Linked DNA regions of Homo sapiens: region 2 is linked to region 1. Evidence: fine-mapped expression QTL. Tissue or cell type: spinal cord. Region 1 holds a variant in brackets; the other region holds the start of a gene. All regions are shown on one strand. Distances are from middle to middle.

Region 1 (8,104 bases):
TCAGGCAGCTGGTCACTCCAGTATAAAGGACAACTACCCTGACTCATGGTCACCTGCTCCAACTTATGTCATAGCTCAAAACAATACTTAAATCCTTACAAAGCTAACAAAGGAAGTAATGTTGCCATGTGTCATTGTCACAGAATTACCAGAAGTTTGGGGGATTTGGGTGTTCATCTTTCTATTGTGGAGTTTTTAGGGTGGTGATGGCAGTTGTGTGGTGGTTGTCATTTGGCAGGAATTGAAATTGGAGGCTTCTGTCATTCTGATTACTTATCCAACGAATGACACAAATAAGAGCATGTTTGTAGGGAAGAACTCAGGTGGGGACAGCACCTTCTATTTAATCTCTTAACCTGTATTATTAGGTTGTATATTTTAGGAGAAGAGAGGAAAGTGGCAAAAGGAGGCACAGATACAAATTTATACAGATCACCAGCTAAGTTTGGCCACAGTGGTTTGCCAAAGAATTTCAATAACTAATACTTAGAGTGCTTACTGTGCACCCTGCTAAGCACTTCACATGCTTTATTTCACTTTATCCTCAAAATAACCCAAGGAAATAGCTATCATTGTTATCCCCAGAGACCAAGATCTCATGGATAGTGAATGTCAGAGCCAGGACTGGAACCATAGAGGAGTCTGTGTTGTAACCACTGAACAACTGACTTTCTACCCTGCTTTAAAATGTTGCCTGTTGTTTGTTGTTGTTGTTTTTGAACGGTGGTGGCCAATCTGCCTCCACAATCCAGACATAATTTCGGCACTAAACAGAAATACTTTAGTCTATACAAACTTCATGTAAGTAGTTCCTGCATGAAACTATTTCCCAAGTAATACAGCACCGATTTACACCTGGCAGAAGGCATAGTTTTGATGTGAACAGTTGGGGGAAGCTTGTTTCTCTACACCCTCAAGCACGCCCACAGCAGGAGCTGAGCAGCAGGCCAGACGGCACAGAGCCCTCCTGGGACTGGTTATTTACATTAACCAAGGTGGAAACTTCTCCCGGAGATAGGTGCTGCCAAGAACCCTAGAGGAAGTAAGACGCTTTATCTTTTGCACGCACGCCAAGTCTTCAGAGGGCCTGGATGGGTGTGACTCCAAGGAGCTAATCGTCCCGTGCAGGTGCAAATCTAGACCCGTGTTTATGTGGAGGTGTAGACGCAACTGGAGATGACCCGGTTAGTGGCTGACGTGCGTGGGAAAGCCCACCAGCAGCGTTGTTGGTTGGGTTGTCTCTGTAAGTGTGGACAGTGTGTTGGTGGGCACCCAGTTCCGATTGCCCCGTCTAGACAGGGGTGTGCGGGCACTCAATGTTCCACGCGCGGCCGGGAGCTCGCAGTGTGGTCCACGCCAGTGCGCCTGGAAGCCCAGGGGATCTGTCCGGCACTCCACTGGAGGCTTGGCCCGCGGCTTCGCCCACCTCCCCAGAGCCCCGCTCAGCCCCCGCTCCCCCCGCTCAGCCCCCGCTCAGCCCCCGCTCAGCCCCCGCTCAGCCCCCGCTCAGCCCCCGCTCAGCCCCCGCTCAGCCCCCGCTCAGCCCCCGCTCCCCCACTCGGCCCCGCCCCCAGTGCCCTGGCAGGCCCCGCCCCCAACGCCGGGCGCTCCCGTCGGCTCGGCGGCCTCAGTTCCGTAAACACTTCTCACCCCGCCCCCGGCAGCCCGGACCGCACCACTCGCCGCGCGGGGGAACCGTGCCCTCTCGCATCCGAAACACCCTCCCATCCGAGCTGTTCTCGGCCTCTCTGGTTCAAACTGACGAAGACTGTTTCTCTAATAGGTTCAGTCTGTGAGCGCTCGGCTTTCGGAGACTGAAGGGCCCTGGATCCCCTTGCCCCGTCGCGCCGTCGTCCCCCCGCTATCCGGTTTTGTGATGGCCGCGCCGTGGCTGCCTCCCTAGAGTCCCTCAGGGCCCTTTAAATACCGCGTTGGGGGGGACACTGGGGCTGGGGGGGTTTGTTGGGCTGGTGAGTTTTCGAGGTGACTGTGCTGTGCTCGGTGAGGGGACGCCCAGAGAGCCCTGACCCGGGGTCACTCCGTCGCCGTTCTCCTCTTGTCTACGTGCTGGACCCGGTGCGTATCCATCACGGGGGAGGCGTTGCCGGCTCGGAGGTGACCGGCCAGGTCCAACGGAGGGGACACCGCTGCAGCCCGAAGGCTCCCCTGCCCTATCTCGGAACTCCATCCTGGGAAGGCGGGGTCAGGGGCCATCAAGCTCGGCTCCTAGTTCATGTCTTCCCACTCCGCGTCCCCTTGTTTGACCTCGAACTGCCGTCCCGCGTGGGAGCGGGGAGCGGGGCACCGAGTGGCCGCCCCGCGTGTCGGGGTGGACACGGACTTCGGGCCTCGGAGGCCGCTTCGCCGCTGTTTAAATCCTGCTGGACAGGTACCAGCGGCATCCCGCCATCAGGGGCCCAGGGCACCCCCTTCCCCCACACTCCTCGGCCGGGCTGGAGTAGGGAACTGAGCCAGGGTAGAGGCAGGGCGGGCCCGGCAGCGTGTGTTTGGGATTTGTTGCCGTGGTTTCCCCGGCACTCAGCTCTGCCTCCGCCGTCCCCTCCCCCAAGGGTTTGTTTTGACAGGAAACCTGGTGCTGCTGGAGGGGAGGGGCGGCCAGAGGACGTGGGTGAGGTCGTGCAGACTGCTGCTGCGTCCCCTTGCCGGGACCTTTGGTTAAGGGGAAGAGGTGGAGAAAAGCCGATTGGGCCTGGGCTCGAACGCTGAACCCTCAGGTGTTGCTTGTGCTTCCCAAAGCTGCTACTGTAGGTGGCACCACTGGGGGTAATAGCAATGATTTGAGGTGGCATATGGATGAACATAGTTACTTGTTTTCGTTACTATTAAGAAAATCTGTTCCATTAAGTAAGCAGTTTCACAATGATAGAGTTTCCTTTTAAAATAAATATATTTAAATGCAAAAATCTAGTCAAGATAGAGACGCGGTTACTAAATTATAGTAAAGGTAAGGAGGGAGACGTAGAAATAGTCATGAAGAGTGGCACTCAAACGACTTAAGTTTGGGAAATCTTAGATGGTTGTCCTGCTACCTTAACTGTGAAGAAACTGGACAAGTTGTCCTTGTCCCCAGTGGGTGTCTCAGCACCCATGGTCACCAGCCCAGTCAGGGACTTTGCTCTTCTTACCTGCCAACGGAT[A/G]ATGAGTTAATCTCAGTGGTTCCCACTTGAGGAGGCTCCCTGCCGTGGTCCTTTTCCTCTCTTCTCTAGGGATTTCATGCATCACCCTGACAGCCAGTGGAAGTTGCCTGATTTGAAGAGGCCCAGGGCCGAAGATACCCAGTCATGTGTGGAAGCAGCTTCAATGCCATTTTGTGAGAGGTTGAGGGCCCCAGAGGGGGAAGCACAGGTATTAAAACAAAACAGACCAGCAAGTGTGGGAGGAGTGCTTTCAAATGTGAAAAGTGCCAGGAATCCTTCTCCCTGATGCTGTAATGCCACGTGTAACGTGAACATCTGCTTTGTGGACAGTGACTGGCTTGTTGGCTTTTATCTAGCTCTTTGTTGGTTCTAACTTGATGAAGACCAGTATTGTCTAGATGAATGGTATGGGCCCCTATCCCTCTGCTCTATGGTTTTTGCTTTGCTGTGGATGAATAACTTTAGTGCTGCTATTTAAGACTGATTCTAAAGCAGCATTTTGCAGAAGATGGAAATTTTTCACATCATCTGCAATTTTTTTCTTTAGAGCCCAGACTTAGTCCTCTGACTCCCTTCCCTTTACTACACATATGTGAAGGCTTGTCCTTGCAGCTGACCTCGATCTAGTGTTGAAGGATGGTACACACTAGAAGTTTCTTGAAATTTCTTTTTTGCGTGAGCTAACCTTAACTGGATGGGTTCAATTCCTCAAGGCCCTGCTGGGTAATCTGAATATTTCACTCCAAAATGTTTATGACTGTAAGCAGTTAACCTTTTTGCTAATACGTGGGGTCTAACTAGGGATTTTGCGGTGCATAAAGAATGGCTCCCTCCTAGAGGATTTTCTGTCACTGTAGCGGGGTGGTGAAGAATTGTTTTGGGTGACGTACTCCTTCAGTGATGCCCTTCACAGAATAGCACTTGAGCAGCCATACCAGGATAAGATCAGCTTGCTACCACATGTGCAAGTGTCCACAGGGTGATGGGTAGATGGATTTGGCAGAGTGGGAGTGGAAAGAATGAGCAGCACACCAAATTTTCTCCAGCCAAACTGGAGTGGTAGAGAGCATGGGTTTTAGGGATCCGCTTCCTGGATTTGAGTTGTGCCTCTACACTGCTGTGAACCCTTGGGCAAGTAACGCAACCTCTCTGGGCCTCAGGATCTTATTATAAAATGGGGATAATACTGATACATTAGCTAACAAGGTTATAATAAGGATTCAAGGAGATAAAATATATAAAGAACTTATCATAGAACAGTTATTGAGTGCTTATTACTACCTCAATAATAAGCACTCAATTACTGTTAGCTGTAATTGTTGTTATTTGCTACACGTGAGTTTCTTTAACCTCCTGGAACTGTGGGTCTTTGCTAGTTTGAATTTTTGGTGCCTTGCAAATGCACTGAAGTAGGCACTGGGAATTGGAGAGGAGAGTCATCGCTTCCACCAGCAGCTTAAAATCTAGTGGGAGACAGATATGCACACAAGTGTAGTACTGTAAGTGACTGCGTAATGGGAATATGAGTAATGTGAGTGAGGCAGAAAAGAAGGAAAACTCAAGGTGTCTTATGAATAGGAGTGTGGCGTAATTAGTTCATGCAGCTGTACTCACTGAGCTCCTGCTCTAGCCCTAGCGGTGTTCTAAGCTCTAGCTGGCTCATTAGATGCAGTGAGTGTAGCAATCAGGGAAGGTTACCTCGTAGTTGGTGACATTAAATTTCAAATCTGAATGACAATAGGGAGCCAACCACAAGGAGATCAGGGAGAGGAACATTTCAGGGGCAGAGAACAGCAGGTATGAGTGCCCCGAAATAGGAAGTTTGGCATGTCTGAGGAACGCAAAGAAGATCATGAAGGGTTAGTGGGAGAACACTGCAGAATAAGGTGGGCAGAGTTAAGATCACAGAGGGTTGTAAACCATGGCCCAGTGACTTAGGAAAAGGGAACCCACCTAGGGATGAACTCTTAAAAAGGATTATCTATTTTGCCTTTTCTGGAGGGCTCTGGCCTATTTCCTGTTTTATTCTTTAGGCACTGTTCAAGAAGGACATCAGGACAAGTTTGACTGTCTAGAAGAGTTCTTGTAATAGAGTGGTATTTAAGCTATCACAGCAGTGGGCACAATCAGAATTTCAAAACTGCAAGAGGTTGGACTGTTCTGAATTTGAATCTTGAAGTTTCAGTTCAGCCTGTCATCTTCTCTTTTAACCTTCTATTTGGAAATACTTTCAAACTTACAGATAAAGTCGTGAGAATAGTATAAGGAATACCATGTTGTCTACCTTTTTCTCAGATTCACCTATTAACATTTTGCTCTATGTGCTTTATTATTTTTTCTCTCTTGCATTTGAATCATTTGAGAAAAAGTTGTATATGTCATGGCCCTTTATTCCTAAATACAAAACCACAGTACATTTCAACTTCAGTATATTTAACATTGGATAACAGACAGTAGATTCAAATATTGTTAACAGTGCTATTGATTGACTGATACTGTCCTTTACAGCATTTTTGCTTCAGTATAGGATCCACTCTAGGATCACCTATTGCACTCAGTTATCAAGTGTTTTTTTTTCATTTGGAACATATTCTCAACCTTTCTTTGTTTTTTATGACATTACATTTTCGGAACTTGTAACTTCTTTTAATAAGAATAAAATAATAGTTGACATCCGTCAGGCACTTACTAGGAGCTTAAGTACTTGACAGATACTATTTCAGTTAATCTTCACAACACTTCTACAAGGTGGATACTATTATTGTCCCATTTTACAAATGGCGAGTTCTCTGTTTCTAGTCAGTAAATAATCAAGAGGAGCCGGGATCAAGAACCCAGTCCACCTAGCTCCAGAGGCAATGTTCTTATGGCTTCAGTGACATGTATTATCATCAGTGTATCTTTGCAATTCTGAACCAGTGCAGAACTATTTGCAGATAGAGTTGCTGCAGAAAGGAAATCAGGAAGTAAAGCTGCACACGAGCTGAGGAATCACAAGCAAATTAAAAACCAATCTCCTCTCTATCTGTAGTGAAATACAGCACTAGCCCCTTCAAGTCCTTGTACCCATTCACACCTCTTAAATGTCAGTAGTCTTACTACCATTCATTTATTCAACAATAAATATTTGAATAAATATTTGAATGCTTGCTGCATTCCAGTGATGGTCTCAGAAGAAATGACATTATATTTATTATCACAAAGTGATGGAATAATACAATCAAAAATGTGAATATGACAGTACTTTTCTTTGAATAGTGACCTGCTATCGTGTTGGAGGCTTTGCTTGGAGTCATCTTCAGTCTTTTCTGTTGACTTTACCTTTGACCAGTGATTAAATCCTCCAGGTATGATGAGATGTGATGTTTCTGAAAAGTTGTTTGATTTACTTGTGAGTTGCAGTGGCAAAGGTTAGGTAGATCTAAGTTTGCATAAGGAGTATTACCTTTCTTAAAGATACAGCCTGGTTTCATTATCATCAGTCTAAAGGATAATCCAAAATAGTTTTTAAAGCAATCTAAATATCCTCAGTGCCTTTTGAATCAAGTAGGTTTGTCCCCAGGTGACTTACTTGGAAACTCAAGACCGAGAAAGGTAAGAGCAGGTATGAAGGAACTTGCGGAAGACCATTCACACAGTGATGGGCCATTCGCTTTTGGTTTTTGTCTGTCAAACAAGTGCCAAGAGTTCTGTTCTATGTTAACTACCAGCCTTGTTTGTCTGTTGAAGAATATGGTGTTATCCTGACATAAAACTGTTCTTCCCTCCAGAGTGTTTAATTCCTGAGGCAATGATATTAACAAAAAAAAGCAAATAATAGAAAACATTTGTATACTGTTTACTGTGTCAATGACTGTTCCAAACACGCTGCATGTATTGGGTACCTGAAATCTCACACCAACCCTATGAATTAGGTATTCTTAGTAAGCCTATATGAGGAAACAGACAAATTTTTAATAGAGTAATAATGGGCATTTTGGCTTCAAATACAGGTTTCTGTTTGGATACACTAAGGCCCAGTTGTAATGTGGAGGCTTCTACCCACTAAACAAGAGTTTCTAAACATTTTGAAGCTTTTAAATTTTCCATTGCAGCCCCTGTGCCAGGAACTCTACCTCCAGTGAATTGCTGGAAGAAAGTGTAGTTTCACATTGTTAAGCATGACTGCCATAAGCACATTTAATTTCTCAGAACTTCTAGTGATGCCTCATGGAACTCTGGGTTTGGAGCATCATATATTCCTTGCTGAGAGAAACCTTATGACTGGCCCAACCTCTCAGAAAAATGTGCATAAAGTCACACGGCACATTAATGATGAACCCAGGCCACAAACCCTGGACTCCTGACTCCCAATTATTTTAATCTTTGCACTTTTCTGCCTTGTTAAACACAGTTAAGAAACCTACCAAGTGTGCTATCCAGCTAAAGTAGAAAAATGAAATGGACAGTTAAAACTATTAAGCTAGTTCATAAATTCTCATGGCTGGAAGCTCTTATTCAATTTCACTTGGAAAAACAGCCAGAGCTCATTTGAGGGCAACCGAAGTAGAGAAAAATTAAGAGCAGAGCATGCATAGCACAGCGGTTACATTACAGGGGAATAACTGGGGGAAAAATGACTTAAAGTGGAAACAAACTTTAAGATATTCAAATAAGAGCATGACAAGGACCTGAGAATCTTGAGGTTTAAATCTAATAAGATAGGCTTAAGCAGTAGATTCTCTGCTCTAAGGCTTGGGCTTTGGCAGTACCAGCCTGGTTAACGTGTCATGATATCAGGTTGCAAATGTTCTGGTTGAAGCTGTACCAAATGAGATTCAGGGATTCTGATTTAGCTGACACTGAATGAATACTTGTCATATACTTGGCGCTGGTCATGGACAAGACACAAACTCTGCTTTATTAAGGAGATTCAGAAGTAGCCATGGGAAGAAAGGAACAAGGAA
Region 2 (8,104 bases), 57 kb before region 1:
AAATCATGGCTATAAAGCATTTAATAGCATGGCTGACCCATAGTGAACAGTAATTATGAATACTGTAAGTATACTTCCCTGCTATGAACCAAACTCCACCCCCCAACAAGTAACCAAGAGTTATAAAAGGGTTCAAACTTAGGCTGTCAGAGAACCAAACACAACTGGTTCCTCAATGCAAAATAATTTATTTACTGGCCACCCCAAAGATACAGACAGAGTGGCCACATTCTATGGCAAATCTAACACTGTTCTGGCCATGTTCTGAGTCTCAAGTCAATGGAACATTTATTGGGCACCTACTATGTACTAGGCTAAATAGTGGAGTGGTTAATAGTGTTCCAGGAGTTAGACAACAGTTTGGATCCTAGCCCAGCCACTAACTAGCTATATCACCGCTCAGTTACTTAGCCTCTCACTTTTCTCATCTGTCAAAGAGGGCTGATAATAGTACTTACCTCTTGGGGTTGTTGTGAGAGTCAGCAGATGATGCATTTTCAAATGCTTTGCATAGTGCCTGGCACGTAATAAGTGCACCATAAATATGACACATTAAATTATAGTTTGATTACACTACTAAATTAAAAGAAAAGTGGTCAGCCAGGCGCAGTGGCTCACATCTGTAATCCCAGCACTTTGAGAGGCCAAGGCAGGAGGACTGCTTGAGCCCAGGAGTTTGAGACCAGCCTGAGCAACACAGCAAGACCCTGTCTCTACCAAAAATTTTAAAAATAAATAAATAGCTGGACGTGCTTGTGCATGCCTGTGGTCCCAGCTACTTGTGAGGCTGAGGCAAGAGGAACACTTGAGGCCAGGAGTTCAAGGCTGCAGTGAGCTATGATCACACCACTACGCTCCAGCCTGGTGACAGAGTGAGACCCTGTCTCTACGAAATATAAAATATGAAATAAAAAACAGAGAAGTCACTATTTCAATTATTTTAGAGCCATGAGGATTCTTAAAAGTCTGGATGGAGCCCTCTTCTCATTGTGTGGGTGGGAAAACTGAGCCCCAAAGAAGAAAGTGATCTATATACATAGCTGTGATGGAGAAGGGGTGAGAAGCAAAAAGAAGGGACTAAGTGAGGGGCAGGGAGAAGCACAGAGAATTAACCTGGATTCAAGACCTTCCCTATTTTGGCCTCAACTTCCAACCCACCCTCTCTCACAATTTCCTACATGTGACTCTGCCATTGGCAGGGTAGCCACCTCCTCTCTCTCAAACATGCTCAAAATAGTGCCCCTGCCACGGTGTTCATCACAGTCCTTCTCTCAACATTTATCGATCACCAGCTAGATGGCTGGCACTACCCTGGCCACCGGGATACAGGCGAAATTCCACACCCTCCCTCTTCTGAACTTTCACAGGAGTTACCCTCAACTGACACCTCCTTATGCGCTGCACAAGTGATTCGTGTCTTTTGCTCCTTCATACCCTCCCACAAAGCCTACACAGAGCCATGCAACTGTCAGACTTTAATAAATATTATGATTGACTAGTAAGTAGGAGGATGAAAGAGAAGAAACAGAGGCTAGTCATTATACTCCAGCAGTATGTCTATTTTTTAAGAATGGTTTGACATTCAGGATAGGCAAAGCAGCACTGCCTACTTAATTCCCTTAGAAAAGTCACCTCCCTTGGCCTGCAGCGTTTAGCAGGCTGACTCATTCCAGTTGCTCTGCCAGTCTTTTTTTTTTTTTTTTTTTTTTTTGAGACGGAGTCTCACTCTGTTGCCCCGGCTGGGGTGCACTGGCAGGATTTCCGCTCACTGCAACCTCCACCTCCCGGGTTCAAGCAATTCTCCTGCCTCAACCTCCTGAGTAGCTGGGACTACAGGCATGTGCCACCACACCCCGCTAATTTTTGTATTTTTAGTAGACACAGGGTTTCACCATGTTGGCCAGGCTGCTCTCAAACTTCTGACCTCAGGTGATCCGCCCGCCTCGGCCTCCTACAGTGCCGGGATTACAGGCGTGAGCCACCACGCCCGGCCGTGCTCTGCCAGTCTTAAGAGGAAATTCCTGGTCCTGCACACTCAACAAAAGCAGAGAGCAACTTGGCAGGACAGACAGCATGCTGGGAAAAGGAGGCAGTGGCTCCGGGATCAGAAGTGGCGGGATTTTTTGTTTCAGTCTTGCAACCAACTTTCATTGAGCAATGACATAGTGGAGGGCGAATAAGATCAAAGGGGCTGTACTTGGTATGGAAAAACCACAGAAGGGTGGAAGCTAAGCACCTTCGCCTTGAGAGTTGGGTCCATCCATACCTGAAATGGACCCCTGTGGACCCTTGACGAACAGGGCAGTGGCCTAGACATTCTCGTGTGTCTGTCACTCACCAGCTGGGGACTTTGTCAACTCATTCCTCTGTCTAAACCTCAATGTTCTGCTCTGGGAAATGAAATCAAAACTGTTAGTCCTCCCTCCCAGGGTAGTTATAAGAATTAGATAATATGTGAGTGAGTAAGCATTCTAAACACCATATAAATGTGGCTAGAAGTATTATTCACCAGTATGATCTAGTATTTTTGGCCCTCCTCTTCCCCTAAAGCGGAAGTAGGGCCGGGCGCAGTGGCTCACGCCTGTAATCCCAGCACTTTGGGAGGCCGAGGCAGGCGGATCACTTGAGGTCAGAAGTTCGAGACCAGCCTGGCCAATACGGTGAAACTTTGTCTCTACTACTAATAAAAAATTAGCTGGGTATGGTGGCACATGTCTGTAATCCCAGCTACTCAGGAGGCTGAGGCAGGAGAATCGCTGGAACCTGGGAGGCAGAGGTTGCAGTGAGCTGAGATCGTACCACTGCACTCCAGCCTGGGCGACAGAGCCAGACTCCCTCTCAAAAGAAAACCCAAAAAAGCTGAAGTAGGACTACGTCAAAGGCCCACCTGGGCAGGCTGGTCCAATACAGGACAAGGGACCTAAAGATAGATGGTATTTCATTTGGACCTGCAAATGAGTAAGAATGCCAGCTCCGGGTCTATTAAAAACCCCGCTCGGATGTCTCCCACAGGCAGAGCTGAGGTGGGGCCTTGCCTGAGGCTTCCAGGGATGCGCTGGCTTCCCTTCCAACCTCCTTTTCAGACAGCTCTGCCCATTCAGCGGTTCCTAATGCAGAAAGAATGGGCTCCCCGGAGCCTGCCGGCTTCCTTACAGGTCACCGCTAATGCCCTGTGACAGGCCCTTGGCCCACCCTGCCAGGCGGGCCTGGGCATCCTCGCGGCGGCCCATCCCTCGGGGCCGATTCCTCCGCAGCCATTAACAAAGGGGGTCTGGGGACTGCCTCGGAACTAGGGGGCCGCGTGGAGTGGGATGTCTAGGCCAGGGCCCGCCAAGGAGGAGCGGCCGGCTCCCGCCTCCGGGCCTGGGCAGGCAGCGCTAGGGGCCGGTCGGGAAGCACGAAGGAGCCCGGCCGTGGGTCCGGAGGCCGCAGTCGATGGGGACAGTTGCGGGGCCGGGGGTACCCACCTTCTGCTCGACGCCCTGCAAGCCCTGGCCCAGCTCCTCCCTCTGCCGGGAGAAGTCCTGGTGGCTGCGCCGGACCTGCTGGACCTCCTCCAGGACGTGGTGGACGCACCAGCCCGAGAAAGCGGCCGCCGCCACCAGGGCGAGGTAGAAGAGAAAGTTGAGCGCCCTGCCGAGCCTGCGCGAGCAGGACGCCGAGGACGAGGCGGCGGCGGCGGCAGCGGCGGCGGAGGCGGAGGAGGAGGAGGAGGACTTGCCGCCGCCGCCGCCGCCGCCGCGGTGGCCGCCCTTGCCGTGCGCCTGGTTCTGCGGGTGCTGCTGCGGGTGCTGCTGCGGGTGCGGCGCGGGCGGCGGCGGCGGCTGCTGCGGCGCCGGCGGCGGCTTCTTCGCCACGTCATCCGCGCCGCCCGACGGGTGGGCACCCTTCTCCGAGGGGCTCGCGGCGCCGTGGCCGCCCTTGGAGCCCCTTTGTTTGGCCGAGGGCATGGCGGGCGCGGCGGCGGCTCGGGCCGCGGGCTGGGAGGCGAGCGAGCGCGGCGCGCGGCCCGGGAAACTTGCAGGGGCTCCCCCGGGACTGGGCGAGCGGCACGCGGGCGCTGCTGGCGTCGGAGCGGCGAGAGGACGCGCGGCCGGGGAAGGAGGCCGGGCCGAGGAGGCGGGAGGAGGGGGCCTGCCTCCGCCGCCGCGGCGCCGACCCCGCCTCCCGGTAAGGGAGGCCGAGCGAGCCGAGCCGGGAGAGCTTGCCACGCACGCCGGCCCGGCGGCCCCTCCTCCCCGCCGCCACGACCCCGGAGAGGGAGGGCCGGGCGGGGTCTACGGGGGCCGGGAAGCCGGCGCGGGGGTGGCTGGGCGCGGGGCGGGGTCCCGGCGGGGTCTGCGGAGGCCGGGGTGGGCACCGAGGTGGCCGCGAGGGGAGGGGAGAAGAGCGGAGCGGAGGGGAGGGGACGCGGCCGAGGTGGGGCTGGCGGCCCGGCGGGTTCCACGCAGGCTGGGGGCGGAGGGCCAGATCGACCCCAGCCGGGGCGGCCGAGCAGGGTCCACGGGGGTCGGGGATGGGCGGCCAGGCGGGGTCGGAGGGACGAAAGCCGGGGTGAACCTGCGCCGCGGGCCAAGCGCGACCCCCTCCCTTCCCGACCTGTGCGGAGAGGAGAGAAATGAAGGGGGGCGCCCAAGGAGCCCTGGCCCCGGGAGTGGGAGTCAGCGGGTGGGAACAGATCGCCCTTCCTTTCCGCTGGGAATTGGGGGACTCCCCCTGCTTTCACTCTCCCAGCCCGCCATGGGGTTGGGCCTTGTCCTTTGCCTTGGGTTTGAAGGCGGAGACAAAAAAGGCTGTCCAAAATCCAGCCAGCTTGGGAGGCATGGTTGATGCGAGTTAGCAAAGATTCTCGACTGTGGTAAGTCTGTTCAAGGGGACGCATTCACCAAGTGTCCCCGTTAGCCAAGTTAGCCTGCTGTGGCCAGCTCTTTACTTTTTCCCCCCGAAGCCCCTTCAGCTCTGTTTTCTCTTTCGGGGTCATGAAGTTTGTCCACGGCCCCTACTCCTGACAGCCTCTGGGATGGGTGCTGCGGAGGCAGCAGCAGCCACACAGAAAGAGGCAGATCAGCGTTGTCACCCCTACTTTTGTAAAAGGAAATCTGGTATTGCCAGGCTGTGTGGTTAGCGACTCACATATGTTCTCGAAATCTCACAAAAGCCCTGTGAGGTAGAAATTATTTTACCCATTTTATAGGAAGGAAATTGAGACTGAGCGAGCCGGCTTCGGATTGGCTCAAGGTCACATATAGTCATCATTCGAACCTCACTCAGTCTGCTTCTTTCTGAAGTCTGTGCAGCTTAATCACTTCAGAATGGGAAGGAAACGGGGGCCCAGGGAAGTTAAGCAACTTGCCCACTCACTCAGTCTAATTGGTGCCGGGGCAGGGACAGAACTCACTCAATTCCACTGCTTTCCCCAGTTTCTGGTGAGTGATGTGTGCCTGGCACTGTGTGCACCTGGCACTGTGTGTAGTAGGAATGCTGTTTCTTCTGTCTGTAACCTCCTCCCAGTTCTGTAAACAAAGACAAAACCATGCCCTGCCCTTAAAGCCTATAGGGTTCAAATGCCACCTCTTTGATGATGCTTTCCCTATAACACCATTTGATACCTCTCATGGGACTTAGCAAGTAATTGCAACGAGAGGCATATATGTTAGTTCAATATAGCAAACCTTTGTTGAGGGCCCACTGTGTGCCAGGTATGTCTCCCCTCCCTGAGGACTGGAAGCAACCATAGTTTATATTTCTCCTTCTTTCTCGCTTTATAAGGTGTTGCTAAAAGCCTCCAGTGAATGAATGAACACTTGTGTGCCTGCCCTCAAGGAGCCTGCACTACACTTGGAGATATATACAGAAACCTGTTGAGGGCTAACTTAGGTAAATTGGGAACATAAATGTAAAGAGATTTGGAAAGCAAACCATTGGCCTGTACATGGGCAGGCTTTGGGGGCAGAAAGACCTTGAGCAGTGCCTTGAAGAATGATTTGCATATGAGGAGAGCAGGGAGGATATTTCTGTGGCGGAAATGGGGTGAGCCCAGGACACCTGTTGGCCATGAGGGTGTGTTCTACATGTAGAGAAGAAAGAGATGAACTGGGTGGAGCGGGTCCAGATTGCAGAAGGCTATAGAAGCCAAGCTGGCAGATAGAAGAATCGCTATTAGTGTGGGAGGACAGAGTAAATTATAGCAGGTTCTGGACTAGAAATACAACCATCTGCCCCAGACAGAGAGGAACACCCTACTTCAGCTAAATACCAGGAGCTATTGTAGGAGCCTCTAGGTTCAACAGGGCACAGGTCTCTGACCTGTGGCGCGGGGAGACAGCAGAAGAAATCAGAAGACACTCATCACAGGAACCTTGTTTAAAAACTATTCAGCTGAGTTCGGGTTGTGTTGTTAAAATCTCTAGCGCGCAAAAAGAGGTTATCCCCCTTCAAGCAGTTCTCCATGTTAGGGGCAGAGGCAGTGATAACTGGTAAAGCAGCTTGCTGCCAAGATCTGGCCTTGAAAGCAAGAGCCCTACTCCTTTAGTGCTACCAAAGTGTGTGACCTTGAGAAGTATCCCTAAACTCCTCTAGATTTCAGGGTCACCCTTTCTGTAAGGTGCATCTTTAAGGACCTGTCTTATTATTAATCCGTTTCTTAGAGAAATAGTCATCTGATCCTTATCAAAAATAATTAAATGATATTTAAATTTTTAAAAATTGATCCAGGCCAAGTACAGTGCCTCACACCTGTAATCCCAACGCTATGGGAGGCCAAGGCAGGAAGATCACTTGAGGCCAGGAGTTCAAGACCAGCCTAGATAACAGCAAGACCCTGACTCCACCAAAAAAAATTTAGCTGGATGTGGTGGCACTCAGGAGGCTGAGACAGGAGGATCGCTTGAGCCTGGGAGTTCAAGGTTATAGTGAGCTATGATGGCACCACTGTACTCCAGCCTGGGCAACAGAGCAAGACCCTGTCTCAGGAAAAAAAAAAAAGCAGACTGTAGGCCAGATATGAGAATGGACGGTTTCTCAATTTTTACCTCTACTGAGCACTGAATGAATGAATAGAGAGTAGGACGATGGGACTGTTAATATTTTCAGCATTTCCCTCTCATTCTTTTCCTCTGGGAGATAGTACATACAATGGTTAAGACACAGGCTATAGAATAGACTGACTTGGGTTCAAATTCAGCTCCATGACTGACTTTGGAGTGTGACCTCTCTGAACCTCAGTATCTTCAGCTATAAGACAGGAGTAATTGCTACCTCACTAGGCCAGGTGTGGTGGCTCACACCTATAATCCCAGTACTTGGGGAGGCCGAGGCAGATGGACTGCTTGAGCCCAAGAGTTCAAAACAAGCCTGGGCAACAAGGCAAAACCCTGTCCCTACAAAAAATACAAAAAAAAATTATCCAGGCATGGTGGAGTGTGACTGTAGTCCCAGCTACTTGGGGAGCTGAGGTGAGAGGATCACTTGGGCCTGGAAAGTCAAGGCTGCAGTGAGCCCTGTTCACCATTGCACTCCACCCAAAAAAAAAGAACAACCTTGCTGTTATGCGGATTAGACAAGAGACACCATATGATACTGGGCATATGGCAATGCTCAGTGAATATTGGACAGCTAATACAATTTGCAGAGTCACTGAGGAAAAGTATAGCTTCAGAGAGCTTCTGTGTCCAGATTTCAACGATTTTCTTTCATCATTATTTCGTGGGGCTCCCAGGACCATATGTGGCTCACAAACCACAGGCTAGGATGTGTTTAACGTTAAAAGCAAGCAGTGTGTTTCTCTGAAGTGTGGCTCCACCATGGTGTTCGGTTACACCCAGAGGAGGAGGCTGGTGGGCAGTCATAGAAGTGCATCTTCCAGAGCAGGAAGGGATCAACAGCTCTTCCTGGAGACTTCCATTCTCCTACCCCAGTTTCTGAGCACAGCATGAATCTAGAGGAGTTTCTCTTCTGCTTTTCCTCCTAGTTTTGTTTCCTCTATCCCTTTTCCTTGCTAAAGTGTGTTGGATGGTCAGGAATGTGGGCGGAGAAGAGGGGGAGCTGGAGACATCTCATCCTTTCATCCAGCTTGTGTAAAAATGCCTCAGAACTCCCTCATACC

Evidence for each region. PIP is the estimated chance that this variant, and not a neighbour inherited with it, causes the effect.
Region 2: CKAP4 starts here. The variant in region 1 is fine-mapped to the expression of CKAP4 in spinal cord (GTEx, PIP 0.96).

What each region holds. Positions count from the first base shown.
Region 1 is chr12:106,300,866-106,308,969 of GRCh38, forward strand. TCP11L2 (t-complex 11 like 2) reads left to right here and starts at 1,868. Exons shown (of 10, transcript NM_152772.3): 1 at 1,868-2,076. RefSeq lists a silencer at 1,506-1,625 and enhancers at 1,646-2,531, 1,706-1,785, 1,796-1,935. The variant A/G (reference allele first, on the strand shown) is at 3,159.
Region 2 is chr12:106,243,902-106,252,005 of GRCh38, forward strand. It overlaps CKAP4 (cytoskeleton associated protein 4), which reads right to left and starts at 4,119. Exons shown (of 2, transcript NM_006825.4): 1 at 3,468-4,119. The coding sequence starts at 3,950. It overlaps LOC124903008 (a long non-coding RNA gene), which reads left to right and starts at 4,371. Exons shown (of 2, transcript XR_007063443.1): 1 at 4,371-4,858; 2 at 5,770-8,104. RefSeq lists silencers at 3,265-3,354, 4,015-4,324, 4,355-4,694.